Linked DNA regions of Homo sapiens. The protein of the gene in region 3 interacts with the protein of the main gene of each other region in a pairwise test. Each region holds a gene or a part of one and is shown on either strand. Other genes may lie near its edges.

Region 1 (10,003 bases), on a different chromosome or scaffold from region 3:
TGCCACTGAGCCTCACCCCTTTACTCACCCAACAAATAGTTAATGAGGAGCTACCCCGAACTCCCTACACCCCCATGCCCTCCGAAGCTGTCTACATGGGCTGCTCTGCCCTTGGCATGTGCCCTTGAGGGCTGATCTCACTTGGCCACACATGGGTTTATGCTCTAGGATTTGAAAGAGAGAATTCCTGCTCTTCACCTTTCAAGCCTAAGCCTTAACATTTCAAGGGCTGCTTCTTCCTCTGGAATAACTTGCTTTTTATTGGTCATTCATGATTTGGGTGAAAAGATGGAGTCTGTAGTTCTTGCTTAACACAAAGGGCTTGACTTATATTTCTTATAGTGTTGTGGGACATCCAGCCACAGGCATGAAGAGAAGGAGCAAATAAACAGTACCCTGAACCCAGAAGTTCTTCTTGGCTGCCCCCTTCTCCATTCTTCTTGTCTCGCTCTTGGGCCTTTCTTCTCTTTGCCACATTTACTGGCATGAAATGAATTTGAGATGTGAGCTTCAGTTCTGAGTCAGACTATATATCAAGTTGTGCCAGCAACAATAAAGGATGGTTTTCACCTGACTTGTTGAAACCATTCCACCTGGCATTACACCCACTACGAATGGGCAATTAGCAGCAAGAGCAAAAGGTGCGACCTCATGAGCAGGGAGAAACAAGGTGGCAGAATTTCAAAACCAAGGTCTTCCGTATTCACTTAGAGTTACTGTACATGGTGGTATAAAGGCCTCTCAGTAGAAGCACTTTGTTTAGTTCGGCTAAAAATCAGAGTATCTTAGTGTTAATGTATCAACTAAATCTTTATGATTTGGGTATATGATCTTTATAAATTGAATTTTATAAGTGCTCTCCTGATAAAAAAAATTATACAGTTCATTCACTAAGAATAAAATTTACAAATGAATATCCCCTGATTTCACTTTGTAATAAATGTACTGAACCTGAATTACTCATTTAGTGTATTTCCATAAATCTCACACAAATAAAACAAAAACGACAGAATCTGTACAAAAATAAGAGCTCTCCATTTTTTGTAACACCTTATTTTTTCTGTATATGAATTTGTTAATATAAAAAAATCTACTTAGAAAATTATAAAAACATCACTACAGTGTCATAAGGCTGTACATTCTCTAGGAAACACATCTTTAGAAATACAACTATTAGGAACTCGTAATGAAATTCAAGTCCTGGATGTGCTGCAGATGCATCCCAATAATCAGGGTGGCCTCAAAACCCTGTCTGTCCTCTGTAGCACTTTTAGAAATGGCCTGCGACATTCACTGAGTGAGACTGAATTCTTCTTTCTTCAAATATCACCATTGATTTCTGTGGATATCCTTAGGGTGACACTCTATTTTTAAAAATGAAAGAGAAAGGTTTAAAAGAAGTTAAACAATCCCAGCGTTGACAATGACATTTCCAACAGCTCTGCACCACCTAAGGAATGATCTCACTATGGTTTGTGCTATGCTTGAGTCAGGTCCTAAAGAATTTTCTTGGCTTTCTATATCCTTTGAGCTAATAATTCACTTGTTTCAAAATGTAAGATTTTTCCTGTGGACAAATCTGATATAGTCCCATCTTCTATCTGCTTTGGGAATGTTTTTTGAACAACACACTTTTATTTTTTATTTATTCATTTATTTATTTATTTTGAGATAGAGTCTCGCTCTTGTTGCCCAAGCTGGAGTGCAATGGCATGATCTCAGCTCACGACAACCTCCGCCTCCCGGGTTCAAGTGATTCTCCTGCCTCAGCCTCCTGAGTAGCTGGGAATACAGGCATGTGCCACCACCCCCAGCTAATTTTGTATTTTTAGTAGAGACGGGGTTTCTCCATGTTGGTCAGGCTGGTCTCGAACTCCTGACCTCAGGTGATCTGCCCGCCTCGGCCTCCCAAAGTGCTGGGATTACAGATGTGAACCACCACACCTGGCATACTTTTATTTTTAAAAAAGATATATTTACTTTGTATTATTTGGAACTAGTAAGTGAGACCTCCTAAAAGAAAACAACCAGGATACATGACTATTAACATCAAACAGCAGAGGACATATGAAAATCTCATTGGTGGGAGAGCTATTAAAGATGCCTCCCATTGGGAATAAGCTAACACATGAAGTTGCACAATCCTTACAGATTTTTCTCAAACACATTAAGGATAAAAAGAAAGTGCTCTTTTTGCAGTGAGCCGAGATTGCGCCACTGCAGTCCGCAGTCCGGCCTGGGCGACAGAGCGAGACTCCGTCTCAAAAAAAAAAAAAAAAAAAGAAAGTGCTCTTTTTAAAAATGCAAAATGTCTTCTGCAAATTTTTACTAATCCTAATTGTCCGCAATTTAAAACATTTGAATTGATAAACACCTACCTGGAAATCTTGGATGAAAGTTAGGAAGTAGAAAATAAAACCAAAGGCCACTGTCCATTCACAGATCGCACTCACTACGTGATATACATAATCCTAATGCAATAATAAAGAAACAGAATTTAGCCGAAAAAGACTCACTTTAATGTACATACTGAAATACAATGAGGAGTTTCAACCAAAGGAAAAAGCTGTCCAGTGAGCATAAGTCAGAACTTTGAGGATATACGGTAAGCACAACCACGTTACTAAGTGTCAGGGCACCTGCCCACTGAGAATGCGAAGGCAGGTATTCCAAAGTTCTTTCTGGCTCGCACAAACTCTTGTTTTAAGATTTAGTTTGTCACTTCAAAAGGTAGACTAAGGACTGCAAAATGGCTGAGACTGGGAAGCAAATTTGGACTCAACAGAAGAAAGAAATTTCCATACAAGGCATGACTTGGTCTCGCTCTGCTGAGAATCCCTAAGTGTAAGGCTATGCTTAACAAGCACTCTCGCAGTTGTTCCAAAGAAAGTGTGTACACATCTAGATGAACTTGGCCAACTAGTCCCCTAGGTTTCGTGTTTCCCTGTTTATATAGAAATGATCATTCAGGAAATAGTTCTGCTTAACATCCCAAGGTAAATACAGCTACAAAGAAAATGCTAATAATGGACATCCACATGTTAACTGTATATCTTCTTGGAGGCAAGAATGGGAGAATGGAAGCCAAGGAGAATGGCTTCAATCAGATGTTCCAAACTCAGTTGCCTATGGAGGCCAGAAAATTAACAATAATAAATAAAACTGATGGTTGTGAAAAGAGAGGGAAGTTAGGGAGCCCACGCCTCATCAGCTCAATTCCATGGGAAAATAATACACTAGTGTTGCTTTCAAAGGGGTTTAAAAAAACAAAACCGTGTGTGTGTGTGTGTGTGTGCGTGTGTGTGTCTGTGTGTCTGTGGATGTGTCTGTGTGTGATATCTCCTGATTTTTCAGTGCTGGAAACTAATTTTAAAACTCTGTTGCAATGGCTCACACCTGTAATCTCAGCACTTTGGAAGGCTGAGGCAGGAGGATCACTTGAGCCCAGGAGTTTGAGACCAGCCTGGGCAACATAACGAGACAAAAAAAAATTAGCTGGGTGGGGTGGCCTGCGCCTGCAGTCCCAGCTACTTGGGAGGCTGAACTGGGAGGATCACTTGAGCCTGGGGGATAGAGGTTGCAGTGAACCATGATTGCGTCACTCTACTCCAACCTGGGTGACAGAGCAAGACTCTGTCTCAAAAATAATAATAATAATAATAAAATAAAAATAAATAAAACTCTGAGTCAAATATGCATGTCTGCATTCTGATGTTAGCTCACATGCCAAATGAGGCCTGGGGACTGTCAGTGTGCCCCCTCTGATTTCCTACGTCACTTTCTGCTCTGCTGAAATGAGCAACTACCCCTAACTCCCTACACCCCCATGCCTTCTGAAGCTGCATACATGGGCTGCTCTGCCCTTGGCATGTGCTGTTGAGGGCTGAGCCCACTGCTCTTCTACCCCAAACTGCTGTAGGCTACAAGGGTAAGTAAATGTGCTGGATCACAGGGCAGCTCCATGGTGACAGTTGTTTTCTTTGATCCTGTTTTCATCCAGACAGATCGAGTGGAGGCACACCAAGCCCTCCGAGCGTCACTCTTCACTCTCCTTGTCATGGTCACACTCACCCACTGTTTTCATGCTAGGTCACACCGAGGAGGACCTGACCAGCCTACAGTAGGAGATACAGAACAGAGGCTTCCTCCTTCTGGTACCAGTACCAGGGGACCTGCCACATCCCGTATCATCCCTGAACAAGGAAGATGGCTTCTAAAAATAAAGGCAGAACTTTGGGGGGAATTTCTTAAGCATGATATTAGTGAAAGTACATGGAACCAAGAGTCCTGAATGCAGGCAAAGCCCTAATATCCTTGCTATGTGAAATGAGACAGTGACATTATAATTCTCACCTCCCCCTACCAAGTAAGTCACTGCATATAAATGTGCTGTGAAAGCTGTAAAGCACTACACAGAAGTTTGAGGCAGTACCTAAATGATTATTCAGTGAATTAATGTAAAGGGAAATTTTTTTACATCCTTTGATATTAGGAACAGAAGGAAATGCAAGAGTGGCGCAGTCATTTATGGAGTGAATAGAAAACCATGTGCTTTTCACATTTTTAAGATAGAAAGTGGAATATAACAGATTTTTAACTGCCTGGGAATATACTTCGATAAGCCCTTCCCAGCAGCGGGTTTGTGATAGAAGGTCTCCCCCGAGTGGCTGAAAAGTAAAGTACACCTGAACTGCTCCGCTATGCGGTCTCACTTTCAGAAAGAGGTTCTCTCCAACGGAAAGAGGAACTGAACCCCCTTCGCATGATGGGGCTAATTCCCCATATATAAGAAAGAAAAAAACCTGCCTTTTGCCTAGGTCTAACCTATTGACGAATTTGACCATTTTAAGGTTAGATTTTAAAGAAGGCTTTTTTTTTTTTTTTTGAGATGGAGTCTCACTCTTGTTGCACAGGCTGGAGTGCATTGGCATGATCTCGGCTCATTGCAGCCTCCAGCTCTCCAACTCCTGGGTACAAGCAATTCTCCTGCCTCAGCCTCCCAAGTAGCTGGGACTACAGGTGTGTGCCACTACACCAAAAATTTTTTTTTTTTTTAGTACAGACAGGGTTTCGCCATATTGGCCAGGCTAGTTTTGAACTCTAGCCTCAAGTGATCCACCCGCCTTGGCCTCCCAAAGTGTTGGAATTACAGGCCTGAGCCACCGCACCCGGCCAAGAAGCACTTTTTGATCTCCTGTCTGGATCATTCTCTTCCTCACCATCTTCTGTCTCTCTCTTGTCTTGGCAGGCTTCCATTACCTGCCAGAGTTCTCCATATTGGGAAATCCTGCTGTCTCCTCTAGCCACCCTGGTGTTCCTCCTTTACCTCTTACCTCCAGTCCAGAACAGGACTCAATAAACATTTGGTTGATAGCTGAATGAAAGAACCATCCCTCTCACTATTTAACTTCTTGCCATTGGCTTCTAACCTCGGCGTTTTACTGAAACTACTTTTTGACAAACATCACTGACTCCCTTATTGCCCAAATTGAGGGACTTCATTCCTAAAGGCTATTCAGCTGCATATGCCATAGTTAGCCATTTCCCTTGCCTTTGAAAAATGTCCTTTAGTCTCTGGGATCGTATCTCCTCTCATTCCATCGTTAGGATTAATTGCTATTGCTTCTGCATTTCCACAATGTGTTGTCTGAAGTCCAGTTCAGCATTTTTTTATTCTTCAAAGTATTACATTTAGCCATTGACAACTGGCTGTTTGCCCCTCTGAACTATAAAATCCCTCAGGATCCTCTATCCCATGGCCACCCTGCCCTCTATAATCTTTCACAGTCTTGCATGTGGTAGGGACTCATCAATGAGGTCTACCATACAGCACAAGTCTAGTTCTTCTCTCTGGTCCATGATCCCTTTACTTCTCCTTTGCTGGAGGTATTCTTCCACCTGATCCTTGGGGGAAAGAATCCTCTGTCTCTCACTAACTCTCTTCTTTCCTGGGGCATCCTTGATTCTCCTATAAGGCGTCTAGATGAACCACTACTACAGGTATCTAACAGGATGGGTTGATCTCAATGTCAAACATTTGGTTCCATGTGTTCTGATGCTTGGTCCAAAATGTCCTGGTCTACCCCATACTCTAACAACTCTACCCTACACTCTGACGACTCCCAGTCCCACCAGAAGTCTAGGCCCACCGGAGTGCAAGTGATCCTTCCACCTCAGCTTCCCAAGTAGCTGGGACTACAGGCGCATGCCACAACGTCTGGCTAATTTTTGTAGAGGCAGGATCTTACTGTGTTACCCTGACTGGTCTTCATCTCCTGGACTCAAGCAATCCTCCTGCCTCAGCCTCCCAAAGTGCTGGGATTACAGGCATGAACCACAGCACCTGGCCTAGGCCCATGTTTCTAACCTCGATATCTCATCATATCCTCAGAATCATCAACTCTAACCAAACTCATCCACTTCCACCTACTAAATTATTTATCCCTGTTAGGGGCCTTATTTCTGGTCAAGGGAATAAATTCTTTGGTTCACCTAAGATAAAAACTTAGAAGTCATCTTTGATTCATCATGCCACTTCATTCTTGTGTTAATCATTTGCCAACACCCATCAGATTTCCCCTATTTGAAACGTGAACTAGTAGAACTGCCTTCTCCTTGCCCTCCTAATGCCAAGCTCTCCAAGCCATCCCAGGCATTGCTTCTGTCTAACACTCATCTAATAATACTCTTTCTATTTGCTTTACCGTTCGAAAGTCTGCAGGTTGGGCGTGGTGGTTCACGCCTGTAATCCCAGCACTTTAGGAGGCCAAGGAGGGCAGATCACGAGGTGCAGAGATCAAGACCATCCTGGCTAACACGGTGAAATCCCGTCTCTACTAAAAATACAAAAACTAGCTGGGCATGGTGGTGCACGCCTGTAATCCCAGCTAGTGCCTGTAATCCCAGCTATTTGGGAGGCTGAGACAGGAGAACTGCTTGAACCTGAGAGGCAGAGGTTGCAGTGAGCCGAGATCGCGCCATTGCACTCCAGCCTAGGCAACAAGGGCGAAACTCCGTCTCAAAAAAAAAAAAAGTCTTCAAAGTCTTACTCTGGTCACCTAGGCCAAGTACAAGCCTCTCTGCCTGCCTCTTACAGCCACTACACCCTTGCACAGTTATCCCCGGCTGCAGTGATTTCTCACTCTATCCTGAAATGAACTATCCACCACACTGGAGCTGGTATCATCCTCTCTACTTAACATTCCACGCTCCCTTTCACCACCAAACACCTTCATTCACACTGTCCCTCTACCCTCTTTTACTAAAGATAGATAGTTGAAGTGTTTAAGAAAGAAATTAAAGGCCAGGTGCGGTGGCTCACACCTGTAATCCCAGCATTTTGGGAGGCCGAGGTGGGCAGATCACGAGGTCAGGAGATCGAGACCATCCTGGCTAATACGGTGAAACCCCATCTCTACTAAAAATACAAAAAAGTAGCCGGGGGTGGTGGCAGGCGCCTATAGTCCCAGCTACTCAGGAGGCTGAGGCAGGAGAATGGCATGAACCCGGGAGGCAGAGCTTGCACTGAGTCAAGATTGTGCCACTGCACTCCAGCCTGGGCGGCAGAACGAGACTCTGTCTCAAAAAAAAAAAAAGAAAGAAAGAAAAGGAAGAAATTAGAGGGACGGGTGCGGTGGGTCACGCCTATAATCCCAGCACTTTGGGAGGCCGAGACGGGGGGATCACTTGAGGCCAGGAGCTCCAAACCAGCCTGGTCAACATGGGAAAAACCCTGTCTCTACTAAAAATACAAAAATTAGCCAGGCATGTGGCGCACGCCTGTGGTCCCAGCTACTCGGGAGGCTGAGGCACAAGAATCACTTGAACCCAGGAGGCAAAGGTTGCAGTGAGCTGAGATCACGCCACTTCACTCCAGCCTGGGTGACAGAGCGAGACTCTGTCTCAGAAAAGAACAAAACAAAATCAAAAATTAGCTGGGCCTTGTGGCAGGTGCCTGTAGTCCCAGCTACTTGGGAGACTGAGGCAGGAGAATCGCTTGAGCCTGGGACACAGAGGTTGCAGTAAGCTGAGATTGCACCACTGCATTCCAGCCTGGGCAACACAGCAAGACTCTGTCTCAAAAAAAAAAAAAAAGAAGAAGAAGAAGAAAGAAAGAAATTAGGAACTCAAAATTTTGAAAATACTTCCAGGAAGCATTTGGAATTACCCTGATAGCTAATTACTACATACTGCCAAATGATTGGACAGTAAATTGATTACATGCCATGTTTATTTGACATTTTGCAACTTGTTCTAAGGAACGGCAGTGATCTTCCCTATGCCTAGCCTGGCCACAAGCTCACATAACCACGTCCGACAACCACATTCACAACAACTTAAATGTTACCTTTTCTCTTGGATTCCACTCCAGCTTGGTTATGGAAATTAGTGAAGCACAGACAATCACTGAAAGAAGTAAACAGTTAAGGAAACTACAGCACACAACAGTTCCTTTAATGTTAAGACTACATTATTCTCCTAATAACATAATCATTATAAGGTGTTAAAATGTTAATACCAACATTTCTATCATCAATTAAAATGTTAATACCAACATTTCTACAATCAAACCAGTTATATTAGCTTCTTATAAACTCAAACTTCAAATTCAATGATGAGAGTTAAATCACAACACGGAAATACCTTCGCAATAGTTTTCCAGTGTGTATAGTAAAATTTATTAAAACTTGTCACTACATTTTGCACAACCCTACATGTTTCTGGATCTTCCCATTTAAACTAGCTGTTTAAATTCGGTCAAAATGACTGACGCAGCAGTCCAGGATGGTTCTTTTTGAATACTTCCCACTGAATAAAAATACTTTTTCCCTAAAATACTATTTTCCTTTCCTTTTTTTTTTTTTTTTTTTTTTTGAGACGTACTCTCGCTCTGTCACCCAGGCTGGAGTGCAATGGCGCGATCTCAGCTCACTGCAACCTCCACCTCCTGGGTTCAAGCATTCTCCTGCCTCAGCCTCCTGAATAGTTGGGATTACAAGCACCCACCACCATGCCTGGCTAATTTTTTGTATTTTTAGTAGAGACGGTGTTTCTCCATGTTGGTCAGGCTGGTCTTGAACTCCTGACCTCAGGTGATCTGCCCACCTCGGCCTCCCAAAGTGCTGGGATTACAGGCATGAGCCACCGTGCCCGGCCTAAAATACTATTTCCAAGGTAACAGCTTTAAGGAAAATTTTAAATTCCAAAGTGCCAAGGCTCATATACAAAAACAAGCTACAGAAACTCAAACTATTATCTTTAAAAAACAGACTTCTGTTGGGTAATTGGGTATAAGGTGAGCCCTTCCTTCCTGGACCAAAGATCTGGCAAATCAAAGAGATTCGCCCCATATCAGACTTCAGGGATGACTGACACATGCCTACAGTCCAGCCTAATAATGCCAGGGGCTGAGGCTCCTATCTTCCACCAGCAATACTTTCTGCATGAAGGCAGTGATAACCATTTTGATTGAACTTAGAATGCAAAAAAGAAAGCTAGAGAGAAATGGGATGCTCTAAAAAGTCTGCAAAATATTAGAAATTCAAAATGTTAGGCCGGGCGCAGTGGCTCACACCTGTAATCCCAGCACTTTGGGAGGCTGAGGCAGGCGAATCACCTGAGGTCAGGAGTTCGAGACTAGTCTGACCAACATGGTGAAACCCAGTCTCTACTAAAAACACAAAAATTAGCTGGGCATGGTGGCGTGCACCTGTAATCCCAGCTACCTGGGAGGCTGAAGCAGGAGAATCGCTTGAACCTGGGAGGTGGCAGTGAGCTGAATTTGCACCACTGCACTCCAACCTGGGCAACAGGGTGAGACTCTGTCTCAAAAAAAAAAAAAAAAAAAATGTTGAGCCAAGGAAAGTTTAGAGCCTCCTCTGAATTCAGAGTCAGCGTCATCTCTCTTAACTCCAACCCCCCGCAAATTGTGCAGAGTTTAATGCTTCTGATTCTCAAAATAAAAGAAGTAGAGAGCACAGAAGATTCTCTGATCATTTCATCA
Region 2 (10,003 bases), about 28 Mb from region 3:
TGTCTATTCTGAAAGGCTCCATGAACATGTAAAACATAGGCTTATAATTCTGCAGTTATGAGTTAAAAGGACAAATCCTTTTAAAGGATTTGCTGATTTATGCAGGTAAGAAATGATGAGTATATTCTTAGTCATGTGAAATACATATTTTTCAAATACAAGTTTCCTATGATCCTAGTCATCTTATTTTCTTCCCATTGCTTCCTGAGGCTCAAAACATGTACTTAATTTCTATTCCTGCCTGAATGCTGCTATTTAAAGGAAATAATGCATTGAGTTAGTTATTAATGGGCTGGATGGCTTTGAAGAAAGGCTATCCATTTTCTACTTTAAGATAACCATAACTAGGAACTTGTCAAAATAGATAGCTTTTCTAAACAGAACAGGTAATATGCTTATTAGAAGTAAATGGTAACTGTTATCCTCAAATAATGGGTGGGCTCAGGTACACTGGTTACTAACCACTTAAGTTTAAGAAAGTGCTTCTTGAGTTTGAAATAAACATATGAGAAGAAAGTAACTCTTGAAAGATTATTTTATAGTAATTTATGAAATTCTCAAAAAGAGGTAATCACTAGGCCATGTTCCTAAAGGCTGATACGTGCTAACATTTATACTCTAAAATACATATTATTGCAAGGACAACATATTAATAGTACCCTAAGCCATATCATTATGTGACTTCCCTCTTCCCAAAGGAGAACTATGCTGACTTTAAAATACCACCTTCTGATAATCCACAGCGTAAGAATTACCTACTGCTAACAAAGAACACTTGAAAAGTAAAGCTCACTCTGGAAGCCCACGTGGACAAAAAGGATTTTCGTAAATGCATGGATAAAAAATCAAATTGTACAAATTGATATTTAAAATTCAGCATAAATTATATTTCATATGCAGATGCTAACAGACTGAGGAAATCTAAGGCTCAGAATGAGATAAACAGGATTTATGATCCACATTAAAATCATAATCTAACCATTTAGAGGAAGTAAATTATGTAACTACCCTCAAAAATAAATGCTACTGCTTTTTCTGCTTTAACAAATTTATAAAAATACTGGGGCTAGTTTATCTGGAAATGACTTATATGTTAAGAGACTTTCACATTGTAATGTTTACTATAAGGTAATTAACTTCTTAAATATGAAAATCTGAACTGAGAGAAGATACCTTCCTGAACTGAATCACATTCAACTAACATAAAATGTATAGATAATTTTGTAATTCAAAATATCAAATACCTCTGTCTTTCAGCTTTGTATGAGCTAGTAAGGTCATCGAAAAGCTTGCCATTCATTTCCATTAGGGTTTTCAGCACATTGTATACCAGTGCTACAATGGTCCTGAAATGAAAATGAGCCAGTCCTGAGTTATGATACTGCTAACAGAGAGGAAATGTAACACTATGGTCTCTAAAATGGGTTAAAGCTTGGCTGATTTCATTTAATCCATTTTAGAGATGATAAAACTGAGGCTCAAGAGGTTTGTAATATGCTCAAGGTCATACAGCAAGTGGTGGTAGAGACAGTCTAAGAAAACTTAAATCTTTTCCATTTTATCATGCTTACATTAAACTCTAGTTAAAAATGTTCACTATAGTTATCTTCATTTCTGCTTTACAGTCTCATGTCTGAAATCCTGAGTAACAACATTAAAAGAAGATGAAAAAGATCCAATTACCAAAACTTATGAAAAGTAGAAAGCCGGATAAGGATGTTAAAGAAGTTAGAATATATTACCCTTAGCACTTCGGCTTTCCCCTGGGACAGTGCCATTTATAGAGGGGAGACTATACACTGAGAGTAGACCAACACAACTCTGCATTAACGGAGTAGTTTGTGTATCCTCTGCAAATGTTCAGTTGGTCTCCCCAAGAGGGTTTGACCACAACCTCCAGGGAGATTTGCAATTTTAAATTGACATGAAGGCTGGGCACAGTGGTACATGCCTATAATCTCAGCACTTTGGGAGGCCAAGGTGAGATGATCACTTGAGCCCAGGAGTTTCAGTCCAGCCTGGGCAATATAGTGAGACTTCAACTGTCCAAAAAAAATAAAAATAAAAATTCGCTGGGTATGGTGGTGCACACCTGTGGTCGTAGCTACTCGGGAGGCTGAGGCAGGAGGATTGCGTGAACCCAGGAGTTTGAGGCTACGGTGAGGTATGATTGCACCATTGCACTCCAGTCTGGGCAACAGAGCAAGACTCTCTTTTTTTTTTTTTTTGGAGACGGAATCTTGCTCTGTCGCCCAGGCTAGAGTGCGGTGGCACAATCTTGGCTCACTGCAAGCTCTGCCTCCCAGGTTCATGCCATTCTCCTGCCTCAGCCTCCCGAGTAGATGGGACCACAGGCGCCCGCCACCACGCCCGGCTAATTTTTTGTAGTTTTAGTAGAGATGGGGTTTCACCGTGTTAGCCAGGATGGTCTCAATCTCCTGACCTTGTGATCCGCCCGCCTCGGCCTCCCAAAGTGCTGGGATTACAGGCGTGAGCCACCGCGCCCGGCTGTCTCTAAAAAAATTTTAAAAATAAATTGACATTAAGACCACATACTGAACAAACACACACATTTATAACTTGATAAAGGTATACGTATATAAAATACAGAATAGAATACAACTGATGTTAACCTTGGAGTAACTTCCAAATCTGTAATAGGTTTCAAGTATGAGTTAGGAAATCAATAACAAAAAGATATAAAAAAAAAAAAAGAAAAAAATACGACCTATATAAAAGATACTTACGGATTCCAGTGTTCTTTGGAAATTTTGTACAAACTGGCAAACATAATTGGCAGAATTTTATCAATGTTCTCCTCAATCAAACTAAGAATATATTCGTTATTCCAGAAGTACAATGCCCTTTCTGCAACCTAAAAAAAGACATTTAGAGAAATGTCAAAACTAAAATAGGAAAGAAATACTAGTGTAAAGTAAAGGCTTCACTGAAAACATCATACCTGAAAATGAGAACTGGATACACACTTGGATATCTGCTTGAAAAGTGGCTCTTCAATTTTTTTGAACTGTGTTGGTTCAATGACATCTAAGATTTCTTCAATTTCTCCTAAAAACATCACCTAGGTTAAAAAAATTTTATTTTAAGAAACATGATAAATTATGTGAAACTAATATAGAAACCATACAAATGAGAAGGTTAATCTGCATAGTATACAATAAGCAAAAAAATGTCTGGATGGCAGAGTTTACTATAGCACAGGTCTTCTACCAAGTCTGTGTACATCTCCCGCTCTTTAGCAACAGCAATACAGCCAGCCCAAAGAAGCATGGTTTATAGCCCTGGGATTGACAAGTTCTAGTAAAATGCACTACATTTAGTGAACAAAACCCACCTCTTTCTGACTGCAGGTTTTTGGCCAAAATTTCAGCAGTCCTCTGATCACCTGCGAAAAAGAAAAAGTTTAGCATGAATTTAATAACAAAGCTAGTTAATCCCAGCGTATTTTCCATAGCTGTGATTATATCAACACTCATTCTGAAGTAAATCAATATTGCTTAATATATGTGTATAAATAGACTTTCTGCTCAGCTTTAGAATTTTATTAATTCAACTAACATTTACTGGGTGCCTATTATGTACCAGATACTGTTCTAGATGCTAGGGACACACTGATGTACAAGACAGATGAGGTCTCTGGTTTTCACAGAGCTTACGTTCTAATGGAGGAAGACCAATGCAAGTGATCAATTAAACACATAAATAAAACAATTTAATAGTATGTGCTACTTCTAAGAAAATAAAGGAAAATATAAGTTGGTGGGGTGAGAGAGGGAGGTTATTTTAGGGAGAAACCTTAAGGAACAGATGATTCCTGTTATTTAAACCATTATGAAACACAAAAAAAAACCCTGGACAGCTTCTCAGTCTATTTCATGGCTAGCACAATCTTTATAACCAGAATACAATGAAACAAAAGAGACTATTTTTATTTATTTATTTATTTTGAGATGGAGTCTCACTTTGTCGCCCAGGTTGGAGTGCAGTGGTGTGATCTTGACTCACTGCAACCTCGGCCTCCCAAGTTCAAGCAATTCTCTGCCTCAGCCTCTCGAGTAGCTGGGATTATAGGCGCCCACCACCACACCCAGCTAATTTTTGTATTTTTAGTAGAGACAGGTTTCACCATCTTGGCCAGGCTGGTCTTAAGCTCCTGACCTTGTGATCCACCAGCCTCGGCCTCCCAAAGTGGAGACTATTTATTTAAATAAACAAAGTTGAAAACACTTGCATTAAACTGAATCACAATAGAAGAATGCTATATGCCTAATTGTAACTTATTCCAGAAATGCCAGGATGGTTCCATTCATAGGTTAAAAGGGGAAATAAAAAAAAAAAACCCAGATCATTTTAAAAGATTTTCAAGTCATTTGACATTTTTAATTGACTATATATTCTGATAAAAAAATTTAGTAAGCTAGAACTAAAAGAATTTATCAGAAACCACCAGCAATCATTCTACATAATGATTTATTAGAGACAGGCTGTAAAACCATCTAGGCCTGGTGGTTTTGTGGAAATAGATCTTTGACAGCTTTTTAGGTTACTTTATAGTCTGTCTGGTCCAGTAATGTGGAACACTAATTCAAATTAAAATTGGGAAGGATACTGTTTTGGAGACAATCCAGTAAGATAACAATGTGATGAATAATGTTGGAAAGGAATACCAGAATTACACTTATTTGTGTAACTGTATATTTATATATCCCTTAAAACTTAAAAAAAAACCCTGCAAGTTACTAGAGTGAGTAGGAAAATTCAGTATGTGGCCACATTAAAAAATACATATATAAAAATCAATACCTTTATAAAACATCAGTAAAAATCAGATGAATAATAAAAAGGTACTTTTCACAACAACAACTATAATGTGCATAAAGAATAAATTTGCAAGAAATACTTAAGACATATGGAGAAAAGCATAAAACTTTACTGAAGATCATAGAAGACTACAAATACAGTTATATGTCATTTAATGATGGGGATACGTTCTAAGAAATGTGTCATTAGGCAACTTCATCATTTAAATGTCACAGGGTGTACTTAAACCTAGATGGTATGGCCTACTACACACCTAGGCTGTATGGTGTAGCCTTTTGCTCCTAGGCTACAAACCTGTACAGGATGTTCTTGTACTGAATACCGTAGGCACTGTAGGCAGTTGTAACAATAGTATTTGTGTATCTAAACACGAAAGGTACAGTAAAAATATAGCATTATAATCTTATGGGATCACCATTTTTCTTTCTCTTGGAATCACATTTCTCTCTCTCTCTCTCTCTCTCAACATTTCTCTCTCTTTTTGATGAGGCCTCACTCTGTTGCCTAGGCTGGAGTGTAGTGACATGATCAGAGGTCATTGTAACCTTGAACTCCTAGGCTTATTGTAACCTTGAACTCCTAGGCTTAAATGATCCTCCTGCCTCAGCCTCCCAAGTAGCTGGGACTACGGGTGTATGCCACCACATCTGGCTAATTTTAATTTTTTACTTTTTGTAGAAACGAGGTCTTGCTCTGTTGCCCAGGCTGGTCTTAAAGTCCTGGCTTCAACCAATCCTCCTACCTTGGCCTCCCAAAGTGCTGGGATTACAGACATGAGCAACCATGCCCAGTTCCATTTTTATTTTTTAAGAGACAGTCCAGACTTGCATTGTCGGCCAGGCTGGGGTGCACTGGTGTGATCACAGTTCACTGCAACCCCCTAGGCTCAAGAGATCCCCCTACCCCAGCCTCCCAAGTAGCTGGGATTACAGTCCTGAGCCACCACGCCTGTCTGGGACTGACATTTTATATGTAGCCTGTTATTTTTATTTATTTATTTATTTTTGAGACAGAGTCTCGCTCTGTCACCCAGGCTGGAGTGCAGTGGCACGATCTCGGCTCACTGCAACCTCTGCCTCCCGGGTTCATGCTATTCTCCTGCCTCAGCCTCCTGAGTAGCTGGGACTACAGGCGCCCGCCACCAGGCTCAGCTAATTTTTTGTATTTTTAGTAGAGACGGGGTTTCACTGTGTTAGCCAGGATGGTCTCGATCTCCTGACCTCGTGATCTACCCGCCTCGGCCTCTCAAAGTGCTAGGATTACAGGCTTGAGCCACAGCGCCCGGCCCGTAGCCTGTTATTAAACGAAATGTCATTATGCAGCACATGACTGTAAATAAGTGAGGTGGTTCAATATTGTGCAGAGATATTTTTCCTGTACTTAATTTATAAGTAAATTTAATATAATTTCAATCAAATGCCAATTGAATTATTTTTTGGAACTAGAAACATTTATTCTAAAATCCATAAATATAAGCAAATAAGAATTGTTTTTTTGGTGGGGGGAGTTAATGGAACAGAACCTGTATTATGGATATCAGCAACTAAAACAAGATTATATTGGCAAAGAAATGGAGAGAAAAGATATATATGAGTATCTAGATATACTCATGTATATATGGATTTTAATATATGACAAAGGTGGCCTTTCAGTTCCATGGGAAACAGTGGTGGTACTGGGACAGGTAGCTCACTATTTAGAAAGGAAAAATGTAGCAGGCTCCTTTGGTTGGCAGACTTCTATGATGATCTCATGAGCTTGTTAACTGTCCTCACACCCTTGTGTAATCCCCTCTCCTTAAGTGTGAGCTGTCCTAGTGACTTGCTTCTAACGAACAGACTGTGGCAAAAGTGAAAGAATGTCACTTCATGAGTAAGATACAAAAGATTGTGACTTCTGTCTTACTAGTAGACTCGCTGTCTTGGCTTTGATGAAGTAAGGTGCCATGCTGGAGAAGCCTGGGTGACAAGGATCTGAGGGTGGGCTCTGGCCAACAGCCAGCCAGGAACTGAGGCTCTCAGTCCAACATAACTTGACAAACTGAATTCTGCCAACATACATGTGAACTTAGAAGCAGATCCTTCCCCATCTGACACTTTATATGAGACTCAACTTCTGGCCAACACTCCAACTGCAGCTTTGTAAGAGACCCTGAGCAGAGGGCCCACCTAAGCCATGACCAGATTCTGGATTCACAGCAACTAAGGCAACAAATGCTTGTCATTTTTCCTCCCAATGGAATGGTATTTTCCCAAAATCTTGCAGATCAGTTACAGCAAACAGAACTATGACCATCAAGGAAAACTGTCACTCTTGGCTTCTTTTTGACCACAGCAGCTACATGGAAGCAGCTGCAGCTTTGATAAAGGCCATAAATGCTTGCTATTTTAAGCCAATAAATTTTGTGATCATTTGATATGCGTAATTGAAAATGAATGCAGGCCAGGCATGGTGGCTCAGGCCTTTAATCCCAGCACTTTGGGAGGCCAAGGCAGGCTTGGGCCCAAGAGATCAATACCAGCCTGGGCATCATGGTGAAACCCCATCTCATCTTTACCAAAAATACAAAAAAATTAGCTGGGCATGGTGGTGCATGCCTGTAGTCCCAGCTACTTGGGAGGCTAAGGCAGGAGGATCACCTGAGCCTGGGAGGTCAGGGCTGCCGTCAGCCACAATCGTACTACTGCACTCCATCCTGGGTGATGTGGTGAGATCCTGTCTGAAAAAAAAAAAAACCCAAAACACAAACAAACAAACCCAAATGTAGTTCCTTACCCTCATCATACACAAATTTCAATGTCGGGCAGTATTGAATAACGAACACTGGGTTGACTAGTGGCCCCCAAAAAGATGTCAATGTGGGCCAGGTGCAGTGGCTTACAACTGTAATCCTAGCACTTTGGAAGGCCAAGGAAGGCACACTGCCTGATCTTAGGAGTTTGAGACCAGCCTGGGCAACATGATGAAACTCCATCTCTACTAAAAATACAAAAAAAAACCTAGCCGGGCGTGGTATCGGGCGCCTGTTATCTCAGCTACTCAGGAGGCTAAGGAACAAGAATTGCGTGAACCCAGGAGGTGGAGGTTGCAGTGAGCCGAGATGGTGCCACTGACTGCACTCCAGCCTGGGCAACAGAGTGAGTCTCTGTCTCAAAAAAATAAATAAAATATAAAATAAAATAAAAATAAAATAATAAAATAAAATATAAAATAAAATAAAAAAGAAAAATAAAAAAATTATTTTGGGGCTCAAGTTAGATTTTCTTGGAATAAGAACGGTGTTTTGTTTTGTTTTGCTTGTTTTATAAAAATGCAGCTTTGAGTGGAAGGAAAGGTTTACACTGCCAAAAAAATAAAAGTTTTGAAAGTCATGCCGACTCTTCATTTTTTTCCTCTTTACATGGAAACTTAGCTGTAATGAATATTTAGTTAATTCTTCCACTCTGCACTTTTTTCTTTTTAGACGGAGTCTCACTCTGTTGCCCAGGCTGGAGTGCAGTGCTGTGATCTCGGCTCACTGCAACCTCTGCCCTCCTGGGTTCAAGCCATTCTCCTGCCTCAAGCAATTCTGCCTCAGTCTCCCAAGTAGCTGGGATTACAGGTGCCCGCCATCACGCCCGGCTAATTTTTGTATTTTTAGTAGGGATGGGGTTTCATCATGTTGGCCAGGCTGGTCTTGAACTCCTGATCTCAGGTGATCTGCCTGCCTCAGCCTCCCAAAGTGCTGGGATTACAGGCTTGAGTAATAAACTAACAAAAGCTCTGAGCTACTTATAATTTGTAGAAAGCTTTGATAGGAATGCCTGCTTTCCAGAAAATTAGTATTAAGGCTTAAACCCAAGTAATATGGCCGTAATTTTGGTGCTGGAATGGCCTATGTTAGAAATTGCAAGATCTCTATATCGAGAGATCTTTATGAGTTGGAAAATATTTTCCTTTCTTAACCTGGGTATTTATCTTACTCTCTCTCCTCATCCTGCTCCTATTTTCATTAACCCAACTCAGCCAAACCAGATAAAAGCTGAATAACTGGCCATCATCCCTCTCCCTAATCGTCAAGGTTTTTTGTTTTTTTGTTTTTTTTTTTGTGTCATCTCGGCTCACTGTAACCTCCGCCTCCAGGGTTCAAGTGATTCTTGTGCCTCGGCCTCCCTAGTAGCTGAGATTACAGGCACACGCCACCATGCCCAGCTAATTTTTTTTTTTTTTTTTTAAGTAGAAATGGGGTTTCACCATGTTGATCAGGCTGATCTTGAACTCCTGACCTGAGGTGATCCGCCTGCCTCGGCCTCCCAAAGTGCTGGGATTACAGGCATGAACCACCATGCCCAGCCTCTATCTTCCATTCTTTAAAAATAAATCACCTGTCTTCCTTATCCACCCCAAATTAATTAAATAAAATTTTATTTGTATACTATTTACCAAGCATGAACCATGACTTTTCAATATGTGTTATTATGGGTTTTCTTTTTCTTAATTCTAATGGGAGTTATCATAGATTTGTATTAAGGTTTTACTTTTTTCTTTTTTTTTTTGAAGACAGAGTCTCACTCTGTTGCCCAGGCTGGAGTGCACTGGTATGAGCTCAGATCACTGCAACCTACGCCTCCTGGATTCAAGCAATTCTTGTGCCCTTGCCATCTGAGTAGCTGGGACCACAGGCCTGTGCCACCATGCCCAGCTAATTTTTGTATTTTAACTAGAGACAGGGTTTCACCATGTTGGCCAGGCTGGTCTCAAACTCCTGGCCTCAAGTTATCTGCCTGCCTCAGCCTCCCAAAGTGCTGGGATTACAGTTGTGAGCCACTGCACACCTGGGAATCAACTTCAGAGGTTTATGTGGTTTCATGTACAAATATATGGTTTCTAATTCTCCTGAATTGTCTTCAAAAACTGTTTACAGCTGTTTCTAGAAAAGACTGTAAATCTAAAAGTCAAAAAACTAATAAAAATTAAGGAGTGGAAAAATGTCTTTTGTTCCATTACACAAAGTTCAAGTGAAAGGGAGAATACTAAGTATATGATTTTTTCAAGCATCCCTACGGATAGCCTGAGAAGGTTCATAATATAGTAAAAATACATATATATTTTAGTTTTTCAAACCCTTTGCTATTTACTAAATATTTATTAGGTTGCTGCTAAAGTGATTGTGGTTTTTGCC
Region 3 (10,409 bases):
GTTTACCTCCAACCACTCTTGTCATAATTGCATAACCACAGCATGTCATGTTGTTTCTTGTTGCAACTATAACTTGTAAAATTAAACTTCAGAACCGAGACAGTCAAGCTAAATAATTGCCTACTTTAAAAAATATGTATGTATGTAATTTACATGCCACTTCAGATAAGCTCTTGAATTATGATCTCTGGAAGTCAAAACTGTCACCATTATTTAAAATATAGTTTCACTGTCGCAATCTTTCTTGTACACAAGCCCTATCCCTGTTTTTTCAGTTTTCTAAGCAGTACTTTATACTGGTCTATTGCAATCTGCTTTTTGTGTTTTATGAAGAACCCAATTAAGCATAATTTTTATTTACTGCATGCTACGGGACTTTTAAAATTGAGGCTCAAAGAAGGACCATAAAGTGGCCAAAGATGTATTTGTTTGCTAAAAGCCTATTCATAAAAGTATCTTTACACAGTAAAGCTGGAAAAAAAAAGGTCATCTGAGTACCCACCACGTACATTGTGTAGGGTCCTCCAACCTGTATTATATATCATGTAACCCTTCCCTCACCTTGGGAGGGAGGCTTCACTATATCCATTTCCAAAATAGTATTTTTAGGAGATGTATATTTTCATGAAGACTGATCGACCCAATATCTCTGAGTGAATTCTGATTGACTAGATGTATAAGTAGATTTACGTAGTCAATATGTTCCTAAAAAACTGGAGGCAAATCAACTTTCACATACAAATTATTTTCATGTAAACTTGCATTGTAAGATCAGACCTGCCATACCCTCACTCCTGATTGATAATCAGCACTGTGCTGCTCAGAGCACTTGCTGGAGTCTGAAGCTTACCCATGTGTACATACCCTTTCCTAACTCTTTGATGCGTCTGGATTCCATTCCACCCATGAGGAGGTGCAGAATGAAACAGTTTAAATCACCTGAAATGAGCAGTGACCACACTCTAAGATACCAGCTAAACATCAGGAGAGAAAATACAAACAAAGCAATGCTCTCTCCTCTCTTTATATTTGGTTCTAAGAAGCTGGAGGAAAACAAAGTATCATAAGACAGTGAGGTTTCACCAATTTCTCTGTTAACTGGCAGTATCCTACAATCTCCCTCCGGAATTACTGTACGATTACCCTTTAGTTAGGGCCACCCTCAAAGTAGAGCTGGAAGGAAACTTCAAAGGATACAGAACCCCAAGACCTCTGTACTTAAACATGTGAGCTACACAAGATGCCTCATTATATGGCTGTAAGTTGTATTGATAAATTCAAATGAAGACAGTCATATTTATCACCTTAGGACTCTTCTGTAAATATGTCACCTGCCTTCTCCTGCCCTATTGGAAGGTGACATGACATTCCCTCTCCCAGCCTTTGGTGTCTCCTTTAGACAAAAACAAACAAACAAAAAACAAAAACAAAAAAACGTCTTATAGAAGGGGGCTGCTTAGAGCCTGGAGCAAGCCACTCAGAATGTAAAACTCAAAGCTTGCCTGGTCACAAAGGCAACACAGTACTGAGGCATGATTCACTTGGAAATTATAATAGAGCAAACCACCTTCCTCCTTAGTAGGATTTTTGAATAAGTCATAGCAAATAGTACCAAAGCTCTTGAATGATGCCCTGTGATTCTTCAAGAATCAAACCCCTTCAGACAGTGGCCTATTAATTCCCAGAAACCCATGTTGAATGATAAAGTGAGATGGGGCGGAGGAGGGATAAATGTCTAGCCAAGAAAACAAAATTATCAGTTTTCTAAACTCGGAGTTAAATTAAGTCAACCCTGAGAAGGAAAGCTGGAACTTTAAGGTCCTTCTAGGATGAACTTTTAACACTGGAGGATGTGAGACCTCTCTACCACCCAAGGCCATTTTTCTTTGGAAACATGCCCAGTTGTGACAAAGCTAGACAACAGAAGCACCCCGCCCCTCCTCAGGCACCCACCCACCCAAGAGCTGAGCGCACTGGTCTTTGTTGCCCTTTTTAGAAGCCTCCAGGACTGTTCTCTGAAGCAGGTTTGCACAGCAGTAAACATTGAGTGACATCCTCTTTCAACGCTGCATTTGTGATCTGTGAAGTACCAGTCCCAGCATTGGTTTAACGCCTATAAATACACTCCGTTGTCCTATCACTGGTACTTCCTACTTTGTAAGTAGCAAAACAAAAATAGGTGATCCAATCCAAATTAATTTCCATGTCTGACAATTACATTTCCAAACAGCCAACATGGAACATGTTCTATTGATCCTACAATCCAGCTCTAGACAATATGAAAAAGGGGGGAAAACTCCAAATTCAGCATCTTGAACTTAAAAGACCCTTCAGAAACATCACCTTCTCCCCACAACAGTGCTGAAGTAGCTCAGGCCCACTCCACCTATGTTTGTTTCTATCCTGGTACATTCCAATTCTATCAAATCAAAAGGTTATTCCTATTAGGCAGAAGCTGAACCCATCCCCTTGAATAGGGAGGTGTTCATTACATCTGTCTGTGTAATGAACTTGTCATTTCCCCAAACGGTCTGGACAGTCTCCTACAAAAAAAAAAAAGAAAAGAAAGAAAAAAATACTCCATGGAATCTATGGTGTGTCAGTCCCCTTCCTAACATCTGAGTCAGACTACGTGTGTCTTTACTGAGGTTCTGGGTGCCCAGGGTGTATCACTTTCAGAATTGCTTCAGTAACTGAACTATGGCTGTCTTCCAGCCACGGACAACACAAGCACTATCTATTTTAAAACAATTTTCCTAACCCACCGGCAATGGAAGAGATCCCATAGGTCACCGACTTCCTATTGAAAACAAATTATTTCTCTCTCAAACTGCTTGCCGTCTCTCAGAATTAATGCGTGTTTATGTGTGCATATTTTTATCTTTGGCCATGCAACTCTTGGAGCAAAGAGGACCACCCCAAATTTTACCGACATGCCTGAGCCATTCAGAGCTTTAGAAGAGAAATGAACGAGTGCTGAGAGCCCTTAAGCCCAGGACTTCTCTCACACAAACAGTAAGTGGAAAGGAAAAAACAAAAACAAAAACAAAAACTAACCCTCCGTAGAGGGAGGGAGCAGGGTGGATGATAGGGAAAGGACATTAACCAGCAGACCAAAGGCAGCCGCGGCGGCGGCACTTCGCGAACTGCCTGCAGAGGAGAGTGAAATCTGTTTCGTGTACAATAACCAAGCACCCTCTGGCTGCCTCGCATGGGCACGAATAATAAATACACCGAGGTGGGCAAACAGATGCAACGAAACGAGCCACCCCAAAAAGGTCAAAACTTCAGAAATCCCGGGGGTCAAACCACCCACACAAACACATCAATCAGTCGGAGCGAGAGAAGGGACTTGGATACTTAGCAAAGGATCCTAAATTGTGTTTTTCCTTTCAAGCTCTGGCTTGCAAAGTACGGTGGCTACATGCAAAGCTAGAGGAGAGCAGGAAGGCTGAGGGCGGCAGGGTGCGGGTGGGAAGGGAGGGGTGTCTAACACCAGCCACCCAGGCCTCGATGTGACGAAAGTCGTCAGCAGCCCCGACCACATCCCAGCCCCTCCGCCCAGGCCGGCAGACGCCCCTCGCGGCTCCCCCACCCCAGCTTCCGTCCCTGGCAGCAACCCCGCCAGCCCCGCACCAGCAGCAGCCCCGGCCCGGGCCCCGCGCAGGCAGCGCCACGACCGCGGCTCCCATCCCTTCCGTGCGGCAGACACCCCGCAGGCCTCCCTCCCTGCCCACCCGGGGATGCCCGGGTAGCCGAGCCGGGGCGGGCTGCACCGCCAGCTCCCCCCGCCCCAGAGCAGGCAATGGCTCACACTTACCTTGGGCGTTCGCGGGGGGGCTGAAGGTGGCAAGCCTCCCGCCCCCCGCCCCTGTCCTCCTCGTCTTTTTTCTTCCTCCCTCCTCCTCTTCTTCCTCCTCCTCCCCACAGTGTGTCCGGGGCTCCCCCTCCTCCCCGCCGCTTGGAGTAAGAACCCAAAACCCCGAAGCCGGGCCCGCGTGCAAGCGTGCGGGAGGCGGCGGCGCGCGGCCAGCTCTCCAGTAACTGAGCGCGGCGCGCAGCTCCCAACTAAAGTGTGAAAGAAGCAGCGGCCGCGGCGGCCGCGGCACGGAACGTCCCCCCGGGAGTGGGCAGGGAGCGAGCGGGAGCTTGCGAGGAGCGAGCGAGGGAGGGGAGCTCCTCGCTCAGTCACTCACTCGAGGGGCGGGGGCAGCAGACACTCCCCCACCGCCGGCCCCTCCCCGAGCCTAGCTCCCGCGCGCGCCTGGCTCTCCTCCCCGGGGCGGGGCCTGCGGAGGCCGCCGGGGCGCAGCGCGCTGGGGAGCGGGTTGGGGGCTGCTAGGGCTGCGGGGCGGGAAGGAGGCGGCAGTGTGTGTGTGTGTGTGTGTGTGTGTGTGTGGGCAGGTGTGTGTGTGTGTGTACGTGTGTGCGCGCGCGCCCTGCAGCGGCCGGCCAGCCGGAGGGAAGACCCCGGCGGGAAGACTGCGTCCCGTCCGGCCTTCCCGGGCCTGTCACTTGGGCGGTGGCGTGGGAGCGGCGAGGCTGCTCGGGGGGCAGCCGGGTGGGCCCAGCTCTAGGGGAGATTCGGGTCAGCCCCTGAGCCCAGCCTCCCGGCTGTGCCTGCTGGAAGCAGACGGAGGGAAGGCCGGGCGTCTTTGGCCCACCGCGCGGCCGCTCCCCTCCCGGGCCAGGCTGAACGGGCGGGCGCAGCCCAGAGGCCCGGGCTCTGCCACCGATCCGCCTCCATACTGACCCGAGCTGCGGCGCCTGCAAGATTAATGAAGCATCCGCGATTCGGTAGAGGCGGCACGGGGAGGAAAGACACAAGATCGTGCTGCCCCCCTCTCCCCACCCTTCTCAGCCTCCTAGGACCTAAAGGCGTAGGCTGCGTCTGCTGGGCGCGTCCGGAGTGGTCCAGAGAGATCGCCATCCACCACTGCATCCGTCCAGTTCTTTGTGGACCCTCACAGAAGCTCAATCAATTTCCCACCCTCTGGAAAAGGGTATTTTTCTCTTCCCTGGCATATTGGGTGTTTCTTGTGTGCACCTAATTGATCTTTTTCCATTGATAGCCTTTGGATGTCTTTTGTGCGGCTTCCCCGCGCTTCACTGCTCCCTCATTGCCTTAGACACGCGAGGAATGTCAGGCCCCCAGAGTGAGAACACCCAAGAAAACAATAGGGGCAAAAGATCCTCCCTGGGCCTCGCGGATTATGCACAAACCAGATCATTTCCCACATTCGGCCAGGGTGAAGATGGAAAATGGAAAAGAACGCCATCAGAGTGGTGACACTGACGAGAAAAGCCAATTCATAATTTAGTTTAATGAAATGAGTTAGTAATCAACCACTAATGTCTAGGAAATTGGCCTTTTTTGAAAACTGGTTTTCCCTTTCTCCACCCCTTTTTTTTTCAAATTAAAAGACTAGTATCCCACTGTTGTTGTTTTAATTTTTATTGTTTTCAGGGATGGGGTCTGCTGCCAAGGCTGGATTCGAACTCCTGAACCCAAGAGATCCTCCTCAAGGGATCTTCCCCATCTCAGCCTCCCAAGTAGCTGGGACTACAGGCCAATTCCACCGCACCCTGCCTAACATCACATTGTTCAGGAACCTCAACTTACATTCCATTTTTACAAAATATCCATATTCTGGTTCATACTTCTTGGAGCCCAAATTTTTTGTAGTCTAGCCTCTTGGAAAGGAGCGGTTAAGAAGGGAGGGTAGATAAATTGAGATTTCAATCAGGGGCAGCCAGCCCCATCCCTTTCACCACTGGTGACTTGTTTCATTTCTTCTTTCTTTCCTCATCTGTAAAGGCATTGATAATGATCGTTCCTACCTCATAAGCTTGTGAAAGTAAAAAGAAAATAAAACGAGGTGGCAATGCATGTAAAACACTTTGCATAGTGCCTGACACATGGGTGAGAACTCAATAAATAGAAGCTATTGTTTCAGACTTGATTATTTTAAACTCAAATTTGGTAGAATTTTATTCTCTTTCCATTCCTTCTGAAAAGTTAGGGAGGAGAATGGACACAGCTGATGGATTTATTCAAATGTAGTCCACTCTTCCCTTGGGTTTTTACGCCCTGCCTGAAACTTTTGCCTGTGGTAAAATGAAATAAATACATAACTGAGGGGTGTGTGTGTGTGTGTGTGTGTGTGTGTGTGTGTGTGTGTACATCCATATAAAAGGATCTTTGAGCACAATAAGTTTTGTTCTTCCCCCTCCTTTTTCCTTCTCTCATCTACATAGACCACCCTGAATAGACAGAGCTCTGTGATGTTGACCTGTGTACCCCTTCAGGGCTCAGACAGTGCTTGGTACTGTAGATTTCTTGAGGGCAAGGCTATGGGGTTTGCTTGGCTTGATATCCTTAGAACTAACCGAAGGCCACAGAAGAAGCACTTCATACATGTGTAGATGAAAGAACATCTATACTACGAACTTTTAAAGCTAGGTTTAGATTACTCAAGATAATACAGGTCCATTGTGGAAATTTTCAACATTTGAAAAAAGCTAAGTACAAAGAAAATGAAAATCATAATTCCACCATCTAGAGAAAAGCATTCAATAAGTGCCTCAAGTTTGTCTGTTTTCCCTTCATTTATTTCATCATCATTCAATCAACAAACATTTATTAAGTACCTAGTTAGAGATCAGACAATTTACCAATACAAGAAAAGATTGTATATGTGTTGTAAGTGTTGTTTGTTTCTCATAGAAACTGCTCCACAGAAGCAACATTTTATACAGTAGTAAGGTTCTCAGGATAGCCTACAAAAGCCCATGGAAGGAATCCCACAATTAAATGACCATGCTGACCAGAGACAATCCAGATTTTGTGGGACTTGAAGCACTTAAAATTTGGGGAGCCACCTTCAAGATTAAAAAAGACAAAAGTACTAAAACCCCTTAGGAGAGGCTAATGTAAATGAAGGTCGTGAAACAATTTGGGGAGCTACCTTCAATGTAAGAAAGACAAAAGTACAAAAACCCCTTGATTGGGCTCATGTAAATGAAGGTCTAAGCCCCATTTGCTTTTGAGTAAACCTACTCTCTCTGGTGCTGGAATTTCTATAGAAATTAACTGCTTTGATAAACATTGCTTCAATGTGAAATGTTCCTCATTTTACCTGGGATCCCCGGGACACCTCTGCTCCCCTCCCCCACAAATTTAGAAGAGGTGAGAGGGAGACTCCCATCACCACCAACACACACTTCCCTGCACCTGGCCACAGCAGGGGCAGTGGGACTGGGGACTTCTATAGGGGCTGCAGAAGGAAAGGAGGGAGAGAAGAACAAAATGGGAGGGGAGGGGACAGACAGGTTGGCCACTAAGGTGCTGGAGAGGCACATCGGGCATTGGTATGCACACCAACTCACTAACTGTGCAACAGGAGTGGCCACAAATTGCAAATCTGCTTGGTGTGCACAAGCTAAATCTACTAGACATTTTATCACAGAATAATCTCTGTAGCTATTTATAATTAGTAAGATGACTATAAGCATATTTACATAAAAAGAATGAAGAACATGATTTTTTTCCCCCTGGTTGCATCACCCTTCCACACCACCAGAATCTCTGGATTCCATATCTTCAAACACTCTAAATATGATTTTCCAAAAATTTAATATTCTTTTTGCCCAGAAAAGTTACATTTTAATCTTCAAAGGCACCACTCTCATTATCAATTTTCTCTTAGTCCTAAAGCTTTAGCTGATAAAGACTTGCATCTGTAGGACTGTACATAACATAATGGTTTGAATTATTTCTTTCTTCTTTTTCTTTTAAATATGATATGCCCTTCCATGGGCTTTTGTAGGCCAAACTGAATGTTTGAAGCCCTAACCCTCAATGTGTTGGTATTAGAATGTGAGGTCTTTAGGAGGCAATTGGAGTTTGACAATTTGAGAGTGGGGTCCTCATGATAGGATTAGTGCATTGATAAGAAAAGCCAGACAGCTTGTTCCCTCCCACCCGCATATGAGAACACAGCAAGAAGACAGCCATCTAAGCCAGGAAGAGGGGTTCTACCAAGAACCTGAGCAGGCTGGCATCACGATCTTGGACTTTAAGCCTCCAGACCTGTGAGAAATGAATATCTTTTGTTTAAACCGTGCAGTCTATGGTGTTTCGTTACAGCAGCCTGAACCCACCAAGACAATAGGTTCCCTTTATCATTGATTGTCAAGGAAAATATATGATTGTTTAAAAGATAGTAAAAGCAACACACCACTCTCCTATAACTTCTCATCTAAATCTAAATGAATTCATTTTATGTGGTTTATTTTTTAAAGGTTTTCCCATAAAGTTAATTTTTCTGAATAATCAAGTTCAAAAGTAGCTTTGGCAGAGACATTCAAAAATAAGTGACCCTAAGCTGAAGACTACTCTGAAATGTGCTTTCTTTCCATTTGCTCCATGCAATCACAGCTAACACTGGTTGTCTGCTGTATGTCAAGCATGGCATCATGTAATTCATAATACAAACTAACTCATCTTCCTGACAACACACTCAGATAGATGCTAATATTATCATCATTCCCATGCAGATGTGGAAACAGAGGCACGGAGGGGTGAAGTCATGAGTGCAAGGTAAAGTAGTTGATTTTCATTAGTCAGATGCCAGAGCCCATGTGTTTAACTGTATTTATTTATTTATTTATTTATTTATTTATTTATTTATTTTTGAGACAGAGTCTCACTCTGTTGCCCAGGGTGGAGTGCAGTGGCGCGATCTCGGCTCACTGCAGCCTCCGCCTCCTGGGTTCACACCACTCTCCTGCCTCAGCCTCCCGAGTAGCTGGGACTACAGACGCCCGCCACTATGCCAGGCTAATTTTTTTGTATTTTTTAAGTAGAGACGGGGTTTCACCATGTTAGCCAGGATGGTCTTGATATCCTGACCTCATGATCTGCCCATCTCAGCCTCCCAAAGTGCTAGGATTACAGGCGTGAGCCACTGCACCCAGCCTTAACTGTTAAGAAGTATGTTTTCTCTTCAATCTCCTCTGTTTTTCTGCCTCAGTTTTACTCGTCTTTCAAGACCAGGCTCAAACCCTAACTCCTAAGTGAGTGATCTCAGCTTCTGAGTTTCTGAACTTTTGAAGTATCCAGGATCTTCTACAGCCTTACACTGTTAGGGATCTTCCACATCTTTTACATTAGCTCCACCAGGCTTGATTTTGTGTGTGTGTGTGTGTGTGTGTGTGTGTGTGTGTGTGTGTGTGTGTGGTGGGGGGTGTTTAAAATCTTCCTTTGGGGATACCACAGCACACACACAAGTAAAGGACCCAATAAGCAGCTGTGAATGGAGGGCTGTCTATGCATTTTTATTTTATAATGGTGCCACTTATGGTGACGCAGCTCCTTCTGGATGGTTCCAGGCTAAATCAGAGCAGAGTTTAAAGTCAGTGCTAACAACTTGCTAATGGTTCTAATTGGTCTTTCAATGATGTGTGAATTACTCTGAGTAACCAGCTTTTCCAGACCTTAGATAGCTCTTACTTTCTTGTTTATATCTGTTATCTGTTTATTTTCTTCTTGGCTTTCTCCTTAGGGGTTTTTTTGGTTTGTTTTTTGTTTTGTTTTGTTTTGTTTTGTTTTGTTTTGAGATGGAGTCTCTGTCACCAGGCTGGAGTGCAGTGGCGCGATCTTGGCTCACCGCAACCTGTGCCTCTTGGGTTCAAGCAATTCTCCTGCCTCAGCCTCCTGAGTAGCTGGGACTACAGGCATGCGCCACCATACCCAGCTCCTTTTTCTATTTTTAGTAGAGATGGGGCTTCGCCATGTTGGCCAGGAGGTCTTGATCTCTTGACCTTGTGATCCTCTTGCCTCAGCCTCCGACAGTGCTGGGATTACAGGCGTGAGCCACTGCGCCTGGCCTGTATTCTCTTTTATGTCGTTTTCAAGAGTTGGGTAGATAGAAGATGAGAACATGGAACATTTTCCCTTGAAGTAAGGAGTGTAAGAGCCCATCACCAGAGTAAGACTCAAAATGAGGCAGAGGGAAGGTAAATCCAGATACTATTAAGCGGTCAGCAGAGCCTCTCAAGGTTGCCGGCTTCCCCCCATTTTTGCTTTCTGGCCTTTGTTTCACCCAGATATTGAAGTTAGCATTCCAGTGTAGAGCTCTTTTCTCCCAGGCTACTTGACAGCCCCACCACTGTGGGTATAACTGATGAATCCCCAGACGCTCAAGTCATCCGGCCCTTACTGATACCTGCTTAGAGTATTATTCCGCTGCCAGCTTATACATGCTAATAGTATTGTTATTTCACACACTGGCCCTGTCTCTCCAATCAACTATAAGCTCTATGAAAACAGGAGACCTTGTTGTTCTCACAGGGCTCAGGCTCAATATACCTTTGGAAGTTGATGGATCAATCAATTAAGTTACTAT

The links.
Region 1: the proteins of C1orf21 (region 3) and DRAM1 interact in binary tests that used the Homo sapiens proteins (3 or more experiments, as listed by UniProt).
Region 2: the proteins of C1orf21 (region 3) and PPP2R5A interact in binary tests that used the Homo sapiens proteins (3 or more experiments, as listed by UniProt).

The regions. Positions count from the first base shown.
Region 1 is NC_000012.12:101,912,577-101,922,579, reverse strand, and holds part of DRAM1 (DNA damage-regulated autophagy modulator protein 1), read right to left. Parts: intron 8,407-10,003; coding exon 8,348-8,406; intron 2,472-8,347; coding exon 2,379-2,471; intron 1,365-2,378; coding exon 1,320-1,364; 3' UTR 1-1,319. UniProt on the Homo sapiens protein: Lysosomal modulator of autophagy that plays a central role in p53/TP53-mediated apoptosis. Not involved in p73/TP73-mediated autophagy.
Region 2 is NC_000001.11:212,350,029-212,360,031, reverse strand, and holds part of PPP2R5A (serine/threonine-protein phosphatase 2A 56 kDa regulatory subunit alpha isoform), read right to left. Parts: intron 7,215-10,003; exon of another isoform or gene 7,082-7,214; intron 3,407-7,081; coding exon 3,356-3,406; intron 3,083-3,355; coding exon 2,963-3,082; intron 2,876-2,962; coding exon 2,748-2,875; intron 1,347-2,747; coding exon 1,245-1,346; intron 1-1,244. UniProt on the Homo sapiens protein: The B regulatory subunit might modulate substrate selectivity and catalytic activity, and might also direct the localization of the catalytic enzyme to a particular subcellular compartment.
Region 3 is NC_000001.11:184,380,780-184,391,188, reverse strand, and holds the start of C1orf21 (uncharacterized protein C1orf21), read right to left. Parts: upstream 4,161-10,409; 5' UTR 3,821-4,160; intron 1-3,820.